Linked DNA regions of Homo sapiens: region 2 is linked to region 1. Evidence: fine-mapped expression QTL. A gene starts in region 1. The other region holds a variant in brackets. All regions are shown on one strand. Distances are between the middles of the regions.

Region 1 (5,388 bases):
TGGGATAACTGGTTTGCTAAAACCACCTCAAAGGTGATATGATTTTTCATAACACCATAATTAATTTAGAGACTAACATATTATATTCAATGCTTTCCATATAGTTAGGCATCCAAAAATGCTGTTTGAATGAAGGAATTAAAAACTTGAAAACACTGAATCCATTAACGTTACTAGGGAGGACAAAGGTCAGTAAAATTCCGTGGAAAAGGATAATTCCAAGGGCTACAATATTGTGCAAAGGTTCTAAACCACAACTAGTTCCACAATGCCGGTGGTATACAAGAGCATCTGTGCTACATCTGAATGCATACTTTATAGCACTGGCAAGGAATGCAAATGTGCATACCTCTTACCTAATCAAATGGTAACTTCTGGGTGTCCTAGTGCCCAGATAGGAAATTCTAGCATATTTGCTCCATACTCTTCTCCTTTTTAAACTGTTCTTAAAGGCATTTATCCAAAAAACTATATTAAGGTATTAATGGTAAAATTAGAAAGTCTTATTTGCTATGCATCAGTATAGTTTCTTATTACCTTGTCGTGGTATTGTATCTGTGACATCTCAATAAATTCTTAAGTTTCTGCACATCATATAAAAACAAAGTAAAGGGTCTCAGGGATTGTGAGCTCCCTGGGGATGGGAGTGTTGTTAGCAATAAACAAATACTCAATGAACATACTGACTTAATAGTCTGAGTCAGGTACTATTTTAATACTCTTTGTAACCATTTATAACATTTGATCCTCCTTGGCTGGCTTAGTAAATGTGTGTTAAAATGAACTAAAGCAGCACATGTATTAGCTAGATGGCTACAAAACCACTATATTATTTAACCAGGTTCTCTATTTGCAAAGTTCTCATACACTTTTAAAATACAGTCTATGCATTTATATCATTTGATATAGATTTCAATATAACAAAAAGCATGTCTATTCTTAAAGAGGGTCTTTTTTATTACTTGTATGGAAATGGGCCAAGGTTCTTGGACTCAAGAAAATTCCAGTATCTCTCCTTCACAGGAGACCAACAATAAATACCTGAGGGAATTATACCTAAAAATAATTTGAGTGCTGAACTGTGTTGTTCCACTATAGGAGTGGAAGTACAGTCAGCCATAACTCTAGCATTCCGTATGTGAAGATGAGGATAGGGTAAATTCTGAGACCCTAAACTTGTATTTTCTGTTTCCTCCAAATCTCTCTATGCCAGAAATCTATTTTCTTATGTCAACCATCAGCCCCACTACACTCCTCTTCAGTGGATTACAAAGTGGCTACAACTCACCAATTCAGTCCTGGTTCACTTATGACCATCTTGGAGCTCATCTTCCTAGATTTCTGCTTCACTCTAGCTCACAGTTCACAGCTGCCTGGCTGCGAAGGCTCCAAGAGGCAGGATCCCTCCAGAACTTACTCAGCTGAGTAAAAACAAAAGGCCAAGATCAAAAGCAAGTGATTGGCTAGGCCAGGTGCTATTAGGTGAGGAAGAATCTCTCCCTAAACATCTACCCTCAACAGACTGTGGCACCTAAAACAGAATACAGCAGACCCAAGGTTCTTTGTAGCAGAGCAGCAATGACGATACAGGACGAGCCCTTTTCCATTTAATCTACGCCGGGAGTGTTACTCTCAGGACACTCACTATGGAAATAAGAGCTGAAACAGAACGGTGTTCTCATTGCTTACATACTAGGCCACTTGATGGCATGGAACGGGAAGTCAACTCAGTTTTCCATTCCCTTACTGCCAAAATAAATCTTTTGTTTTCCCGACCATGCTTTGTTATGGGGCAGATTCTGGCAGGCACTTTATGACAAAAGCTACCTCGATATCAGGAATCTTAGGCCTTTCACAAAGAACCTCACATTTGAGAAGACTTGAGGTCAACTTAAGTGACATTTCACAAGATCACTTACAGACATCATCAGGACTACAAATCAGGCTTGATCTCTCATGTTCAGTACTTCTCCTGTGACCCCAGGCAGACTGATAAAGTGACCTGCGAGAACCTAATCAAATTTAGGAGTCGGTCTCTCGACACCGAACGGGCCCGACCGGCTCCCACTTAATCTACCTCTCACACTTCGACCCAGTGTGGAGCTGGGGGGGAATAGTCGAGGAAGGCAAAAGAAACGGCTGAGGGAAAGGGGACGCAAAGAGAGGGGAAACAAGGTTCCAGAAAAGCAGGTAAAAGGGCAAGCAAAGCAGGGGTAGGAGCCGCGCAGAGCCAGGAGCAAAGGGTCCTGGCCCGGCCGCCATGTTCCCTCCTCCCGCCCCTGCATGAGCACGCCCGCTGGCCCGGCAGCGCCCTCCCGTCCGCGTCTGGGCTGCAACACAGCCTTTCCGCCCACCTCATGGTCCGCGGCGGCTCTTGCCCAGGCCGCAGCCACACACCACACACGCTCCACCCCACTCCTCACATTGTCGCGCGCGCCCAAAAAAGACCATATTTAAAGGATGTGGCCGCGCCGACTCGGCCCTGCGTGATGACGTCTCAGCGACATAGTGGGCGGGGCCTTGCGTCTTGACGGCTGCTCCCCTCCTTTCCTCCCGCCACAAGCGCTCGCTGTGGTTCTGGCAGCGAAGTGCGAGACTGGGCTCGCCAGGCGGAAGTGGTTGGAGACTGCGTGTTTTCCTAGAAAGTCCTCGACCTTCGTCGGGGAGAGGAGGGGAGTGATAAATTGGAAGGCGGACAAGCGACAAGTGCGGTACTGGAAAGACCCAAACATACTTGGTTGTGACCTCAGGCAAGTTTCCTGACTTCCGTAACCCAAACTCCTCATATGTAAAATGGAGATGAAATTGTTACTGCTGCATCATACGGTTTTTTGGAAAGGATTAAATGAAACAAAGGAAGAAGCTGTGCTCTGCACAGTACCTGGCACATAGTAGGGCCTCATTAAGTGCTCCTTCACCTCCGCTCCACTCCCCATCCAGTTTTAGCTGTGAGTTCAAACACTAGTTTTGTTCTCATCCATTACGGAAAGATTTATTGACCGTAAACAGAGTACTTTGTGCTTGGTGCTGGGTACACATGGACTAAGACTGAATACTGATTTTTCCAGTGCTTTGGATCTCTGGCAATCTAAGACATTTACATTAAATACAATAGAAAGTAATAAACTACATAAGAAAGGTGTATAGATTGAGGTTAGAGGGAGAGGAATAGCTAGTGTGAGGGACAAAACGCAGTTTTGAATAGTATTGAGTACTTACATGTCAGTTGCTGCACTGAGCACCTGCCGTGTGAGCTCATTTGAAGAATGTGGGTATGTGGAATGAAGAGAAAGGGCGTTCTAGACAGACCAGCACAAGTGTCAAAAGACAAAAATTTGACACATCTAAAGATCTCAGTTGGCCTTATTGCGATTCTGGAATCAGGCAACACTTCATTCCATAAAATGGAATGAGTGTCCCAATGAGTGGAACAGAGGAGGTTGGCATTACGGACAGAAAAAAGGTCTGTAGAAAGTAGAAACAAAGAACAAAAAGCAGATTGATCATTTCAAAGTTACTTTCCTGGTAAGGTGGAGACAGACAGTACAATAGAAAGATAACTGATTGGTTAACATCAGGTTACTTCAAGTTACTCTTTGCTGTAGGGACTAAAACAGAGGAAATTCATTATCTTGCTGATTGAAAATTGAAACTGGCCTGTTACCTCTGTCTCCTGATTTCTTGGAGGGCCACATAACTCAGTTTCGGTGTGGTGAGCCTGAGTGATACCATTTTTATTTTAGTCTGGTCTCTTGGGGTCTAGTGCAGAAGTTCTAAACAATGGCCTCCTATAATTTTTTTTAATACAAGGAACTGCATAAACTTATTGCATAAACAGAATCTAGTGTGTGCTATTAGGGAAGCATGTTCTACATTTTATTTTAAGACAGAGTCTCCCAGACTGGAGTGCAGTGGTGTGATCTCAGCTCACTGCAACTTCTGCCACCTGGGTTCAAGCGATTCTCCTGCGTCAGTCTCCCTAGTAGCTGGGACTACAAGTGCATGCCACCACACTTGGCTAATTTTTGTATTTTTTTTTTAGTAGAGATGGGGTTTGCCAGGGTGATCTTTAACTCTTGACCTCAAGTGATCTGCCCACCTTGGCCTCCCTAAGTGCTGGGATTACAGGTGTGAGCCACTACCCCTGGCTGACATTTTAGACTGATTTAGAATATTGTTAGAAATTATGTTAATGTAAAAAATATGCTACAGGAAACCATAGGTAGTTTATTTTGCCTGGAATGCAAGGTCTCTGAAGAGTAGTAGAGGAAAAGGGGTTGGAAAAACTGGTTGAAGCTAGAACACGTAAGATTTTATAAGCCAGACTAAGGAAGTTTGACTTTATTGCATAAGAAATAAAATGCTAGGAAACAAACAAACAAAAAAGCTTACATAATGACACAATCAGAACTGGCTGGCTGTGCTTCAGGAAAGTTCACCTGGCAACCTACGGAATTCATTGAAGGGAGGAGGCCAGTTAGGAGACAGTGTTTGTGAATGCTTAAAAAAATCAACCACTACAATGCCTGGCACTGTGCAGATAGCATTTCTTTTTTTCTTTTTCTTTTTTCTTTTCTTTTCTTTTTTTTTTTTTTTTTGAGATGGAGTCTCCCTCTGTCGCCCAGGCTGGAGTATAGTGGGGCGATCTTGGCTCACTGCAACCTCTGCCTCTCGGGTTCAAGCGATTCTCCTGCCTCAGCCTCCTGAGTAGCTGGGATAACAGGTGCATACCACCACGCCCGGCTAATTTTTGTATTTTTAGTAGAGACAGGGTTTCACCATGTTGGTTAGGCTGGTCTTGAACTCCTGATCTCGTGATCCGCCCACCTCGGCCTCCCAAAATGCTGGGATTACAGGCGTGAGCCACCATGCCTGGCTGCAGATAGTATTTCTTATTAGGTAAGTGATGTGGATGGCTTGTGTAGGACAAAGGCAGCGTAAAAGTTCATGTGTTGGGTACTGTCTCACAAAGCATGCAGTCAGGAAGAGTTGGGGACACCTGACCTGGCCTGAAGGAACTGCTCTAATTGTTTAAGAGCTCATGCTGCTGGGAGGTACCTGCCCATGGTAGTGTGATATGGTAGCATTACCATACAGCTCTGTGTTGAGATTTCAGATCATCACCAAACAGTATGCTCTGAACTGGTATATCTGAGTTTCAATGGTTGCAAGATAGCACACAGAATCAGAATTTTTAGAATCAGAACACGATTTGGAGATTATCTAGTCCAACCCTCTTGTTTTCCTTACAAGGAAATGGGCTCGTTTCAAGATTGTCAAGTGACTTTTCCAACATCACATGATCAATGATAAAACTGATACTAAAACTCAGGTCTCATAATTCTTGCCAACGTGTGCATTGTGCATCTTCCCAAAATTCATATCTTA
Region 2 (5,388 bases), 51 kb after region 1:
ACAACCAAGACTGCCCTTTTTCTGGGCTTTTGCCTCTGCCATTCCTTGTTCTCCTTCTTCCTCAGCACAGAATGCCCTCCCAGCCACCTTGACTGGGAAAATCCTTCCTCAGCTCCAGCCCACGGTTGGTTCCTCCTCAATGAAACCTTGCTAGGCCAACTCTCCTTTAGACCACCTAGGTATGCTGTCTAGTGGATATGTGCTTCTTTTTTCTTTTTTTTTGAGACAGGGGTCTTGCTCTGTTGCCAGGCTGGAATGCAGTGGCACCATCATAGCTCACCAGGAGCCTTGAACTCCTGGGCTCAAGCAATCCTCCTGCTTCAGCCTTCCGAGTAGTTGGGACTTCAGGCAAACACCACCATGCCTAGCCAGTTTTTTTTATTTTTAATTTTTTTGTAGAGACAGAGTCTTGCTGTGTTGCTCAGGCTGGTCTTGAACTCTTGTGCTCACATCTTCCTCTCAGCTCAGCCTCCCAAACTGCTGGGGCTACAGGTGTGAGCCACTGTGCCCAGCCTATATGTGCTTCTTATGTATATCATAGATTGTGGCCTTACTCTATATTAGTTCTTGCATTGCTATTTAGCTTTCCCTACACAGGCCTCATCTCTACAACTAGACCATAAACTGCTTGAGGGAAAGATGTGGTCTTCTATGTCTTTGGATCCCTTACAGTGCTTACATAGTGCTTGGTCCCAAGGGAGTGCTCATAGTATTCTTTTTTATTGGCAGATTCTACATAACACATTGCAAATGGTCACAACAATCAAGACTATATCCATAGATGTCCCAGAAATAATATCTGACTATACAGAGCAGCATTACCAAGCCACCAAGAAGTCTGCCTAGTAATGACAATGATAACAACAGCTAACACTTAGTAAGTGCTTGTGATGCATCTGGCATTCTTCCAGGTACTTTCCTTAAATGCATGTGACAACCCTATGAAGTTATTACAATTACAGTCCTCATTTTACAGATGGGGGAACTGAGGCACAGAGCAGTGGTATAGGTGCTCAAGCTGGTAAATAGCAGAGCTGGGATTTCAACTCGGGCAGTCTGGTTCCAGAGTCAGAGCAGAAGCATGGCACCTGCTGTCTCTCTACAGACAGCAAAGGGGTTGGGGAGAGGATGAACTAGGAAGAGCCAGAAATGACAGAAAGAGCTACTAAAGCTTCTACCATTTTTGCTGTTCATGTGCAATGCTTAGCAACTATGTGCCAAAATAATTATTTCAGCAATTAAACAGGTCCTCTAGTTTCTTATGGTGTCAGCTTGTTAATTTAAAAATGCAATTTAAAATACGTTCACAAAATGATTAGCTCAGAAGATGACTGATCACCTTTCTTCTCTCATTAGATATCTATTTGATATGTCTAATGTGAAATTTTTCTTATGTTTAATTACACTATCTCAGCAAAGTTATTTACAATTGATCATGATAGAACCACCTTTACCTGGTTAGAACATGATAAATAATTAACATAAAATGGCAAAAATAGAAGTCTTTTGACTTCTATTTTTATAACTAGGAATAAAAGTGTTAGTTATAGCAGAGAGAAATTATAATGGAGAACAAAGAGTATATGTATCAAATATAAACATGAAACATTGTTCAAGTCCCTGGCTAGGCATAGGCCCAATCTGTTAATAAAATTATGTTTTATTTATTTTGTGGTTTTCATTGGATAAAGTCAACAGAGCAGAGGAACAGAGCCACAGATAACTGAAAACCACTTTGGCACTGAGGAGGTATGCAGACAAGATCTGGAAGGGAATCTAGAAAAATGGCAACTTTGGAATAATAGATACCTTTTGTTTTCTTATCGCTTTTATTTTTGTCATGATAAATATTAAGAGTAAAAAGAAAATTCACATTGTTTGTGCCATGGTACTCAGTCAACTTAGGTTTTACTCAATAGCATGTTGTTAATTAATCTTCCAAATTGTTGGGGTATTTCATATGAAGTAGCCCCTACCCCCACCTTGTCCTTTCCCCAGACTCCATTCCTAGATAATCACTTCTGTCAATTCCTAGATAATCACTTGCCTTACTGACAGATTCAGAGGAAGCCATCAGTTTTTTGGGCAGAATGAAGGGACAAATGGTGAACTGGTATCCGGGATGCTGCCTAGAACCCTGTCCATTTAAGAAGACACCCAGGTGATACGCAATGCACAAAAAGCACTGGAACTCCCAGCAGGCAAGCA[C/T]TGCAGTCTATAAACCCTCTATTGAGAAAGGCCATGACATGTCTACCAGGGACACAGATTTGGGAGGCAGAACACAAGACAGGGTGAGGGTGAAAAGCAATGGCTACCTGGCCACGTCAGCCAAATCAGCTCCAAAAATCAATGCGATGACAGTGGTCACAGGCAGATCACTCTCACCTTATAACCTGGGATGGCACAGACCAGACAGATTATTTCATTTTGTTTTTTCATTATTTTTATTTACTTTTTTGGAGAGAGGGTCTCACTCCATTGCCCAGGCTGGAGTCCAGTGGTGTGATCATAGCTCACTGTAACCTTGAACTCCTGGACTCAAGTGATAAACCTGCAGCTGTCTTCCCTGAGTAGCTGGGACTACAGGTACACACCACTACACCGGGCCTCTCATTTTGCTTAATTTATTTAATTAGTCAACTAATTTTGAGGGAGGGCAGATTTTGGAAGTAAAGGGCATAGATGGTTCTGTAGTATGCGGAAATCTGAAGCTTTGCTAAGATGGGATCAACATGAAGCATCTGTACATGTACAAATTAGCAAATGTTACCATGACTAACAGTAAAATGAAGAATTAAGGAAATTATAAGGTTAATTTCCTTGAAGTCTCTCAGTAGTCATTTGTGTCTATAGGTGATTTTGTATTTTACAACATTGTATTTTCTAATTTCATGAAAGGAAAGCTAACCAAATTCGTGGATTTTATTTTTTGCCTCAGCCTCAAAAAGCCTTAGGGCTGATTCAGGCCTGGTTGTAGCAATCGGCTGTCTCAAAGGCCTCCTGCATGTTTAAATAGCTTCTCTCCTGTTTATTTTGCACTGTTTTATCCTGTAAGCTGTCTCGAGGCCCTTCCAATATAAGCATGAGGATTTAAATCTTAATAAATTGAGATTTGAATAACAGAGGTAATCTGGGCTTGGGGGGTCTTGAATTATTGGGATAAACATCTCTGTTTCTCATCTGCACATTATGCATGTGCTGTACACATTGCCCCATGACCAAGGTCAGAAATAATAAAATAGTCATAGCAGAAATAATACTGATAATATTTAGAGTTAAATAGCACTTTTCTGTTTGTAAGGACTTTTTTATGTACAGGTTCTCCTTCTATTCTTGGAATAGTCCTAACCAGTAGAAAGATCAGGTGTTATACCCACTTTAAAAATGAAGCAACTGAGTGACAAAGAGATTAAGACACATTCAAAACAATATGGACAAGTGGAGGCAATAGGACTGGAACTCAGGTCTTCCTGATAGCTTTCCCACAATTTTGCCAGATGTGTTAACATTATGTGTGCTAACAATAAGACTCAACTCAGTGACATTCCAATTAAACTTACTGGAGATGTCTTTTTATAAGCTTATGACAGGGACATTGTAGAAGTCTGGAGTTAGCTCTTTTTTAAAAAAGATTGCCACAGAGATTGCTCATGAGTTCAACTCTGGGGTTGAAAGTGATAAACAAGCAATGCTCAAATACCTTTTTGTAATCTCCTATTATTTTGAAGGAAGGAGTAAAAATATATATAACTTCTTTAATTGTAATTTAACACCAAAATATTTCTTCTATCCTGTAATTTCTTATCATTCAAAATTCTAAGGAGTTGAATTTTAAGACATAAGTGGAGACATACAAATCACAAAGATATATTCTAACAAACATTAATAGAAACAACAACAATTAAAAAGGCTTACCTTGCAGCCTTCACATGTAATGACACCATAATGGATTCCTGATGATTTGTCTCCACAGATCTTGCATGGAATAATTTCAATTTGAGCTGCAACAGAAGCACGCAACCAGTTAATTACATTTTCTTTTAAACACCTTATAAAAGCGTTCCCTGATCAGCATTTGTATAGTGAAAACTAATAACCTGCTAAACATTATACTGCATTAACTATTCATTGCTGAACTGTGAGGGTCCCCCTAGAGCCCTGGACTAAATTATGGCTGCTCGTTATATAATAGCTTTCGGGTTATTAAAATGGGTCATTTGAGAAGGTGTTTAAGAACCCACAAGAAGACTGGAATCAGCATTTCAAAGCCTTCAAGAACTGGAGAGTTCGCAGTTTAGGCCTCAGAGCAAAGCAGATACTGAAATGTTTCCTCCAATCTCATTTTCTATCATTATTTTTAAAAGATCATAAATCTGTCTTGGCTGAGCATTACAGCTTGACTGCTAGAGAAAAATACACTCTAAAAAGTCAGGTCTAGTTAGGAAAATGATTCAATTCAAAATATTAATCAGTTACATATGATAAGAATTCCTTATCTTTTAAAAAATTAACGCAGTTGCCATGTGTTAAAAATTAGTCCATTTGTGTACAATCAGAACCTTTCAACCATAGAGTTAATATCTTGTTTGAATTTAATAATGATGAATCCTGACAAATAGGATGTGTTGCTTCTGAGTTCTTTACACTGGAAATTTAGTTCCTGGTACAGAGGGCATGTGTTTCTACCCAACTGATTACTTAAAGATGCCTCATGCTGGAAGACCCGCAAATAACATGTATCACACCAAAGTTCTCAAATAAGGCAAAGCACATTTCTAAGCAAACACATTATACCTCAGAGTTAAAAAGAGCATAATTAAGGATAAAAAATAAGGAATAATTAGGCAAAAGAAAATCCTTAGATCAACTATTAAATAGAATTTATATGTGAAATAAAGACCAATGCTGAGCTGTATAGACAGGATGGGAACAGTCACCAGTTTACCTGGAATGTGTCATTACGCTAAATTCATTTTCCATGGTTTTCACTACTGGGTATCATGTTAGATTACCTACTGAGTTACACACACAAACACAACTGCAAGTGCCCAAGTCTATTTCATTTCTGTACAGCCCTTACCTAGCCCCAGACCTTACACAGAGTAATTTCTTTGTCCAAAGAATATGTCACATAGTGTAAGTACCACACAGAGACACACAGCCCACTCTTTCTTCTAATGTAATCCCATATCCTGGGATGATTTCACAACCACTTACTTTGGATTTAAGGTGATGTTGCATTCGATACTTAGAGCACACATGAAACTATTGGATTTAACCTCATTATAAACCATGTGTACTGCTAACTCCCTTTCTCAGGGCCTAATACAAGTACTGTGGTGACTTTTAGGGAGTGCAAGCTATTCTAAAAGCTATCCATCATTTTTT

Alleles and levels. Positions count from the first base shown, and alleles are read on the strand shown. Sizes are in standard deviations (SD) of each study's normalised expression.
For the expression in testis of the gene that starts at base 2,530 in region 1, allele T in region 2 goes with a higher level than allele C (large effect, 1.0 SD a copy in GTEx).

The links.
Region 2: its variant is fine-mapped to the expression of RORA-AS1 in testis (GTEx, PIP above 0.99).

What each region holds. Positions count from the first base shown.
Region 1 is chr15:60,476,649-60,482,036 of GRCh38, forward strand. RORA-AS1 (RORA antisense RNA 1) reads left to right here and starts at 2,530. Exons shown (of 6, transcript NR_120342.1): 1 at 2,530-2,750. It overlaps ICE2 (interactor of little elongation complex ELL subunit 2), which reads right to left and starts at 2,494. Exons shown (of 16, transcript NM_024611.6): 1 at 2,355-2,494; 2 at 1,289-1,421. The coding sequence starts at 1,329. RefSeq lists enhancers at 1,326-1,445, 1,768-2,295.
Region 2 is chr15:60,527,851-60,533,238 of GRCh38, forward strand. RORA (RAR related orphan receptor A) reads right to left here. Exons shown (of 11, transcript NM_134261.3): 3 at 3,916-4,001. All of the region lies in intron 3 of RORA-AS1 (RORA antisense RNA 1), which reads left to right. Among named protein-coding and RNA genes, the nearest start is that of RORA-AS1, 51 kb to the left of the region's middle. The variant C/T (reference allele first, on the strand shown) is at 2,209.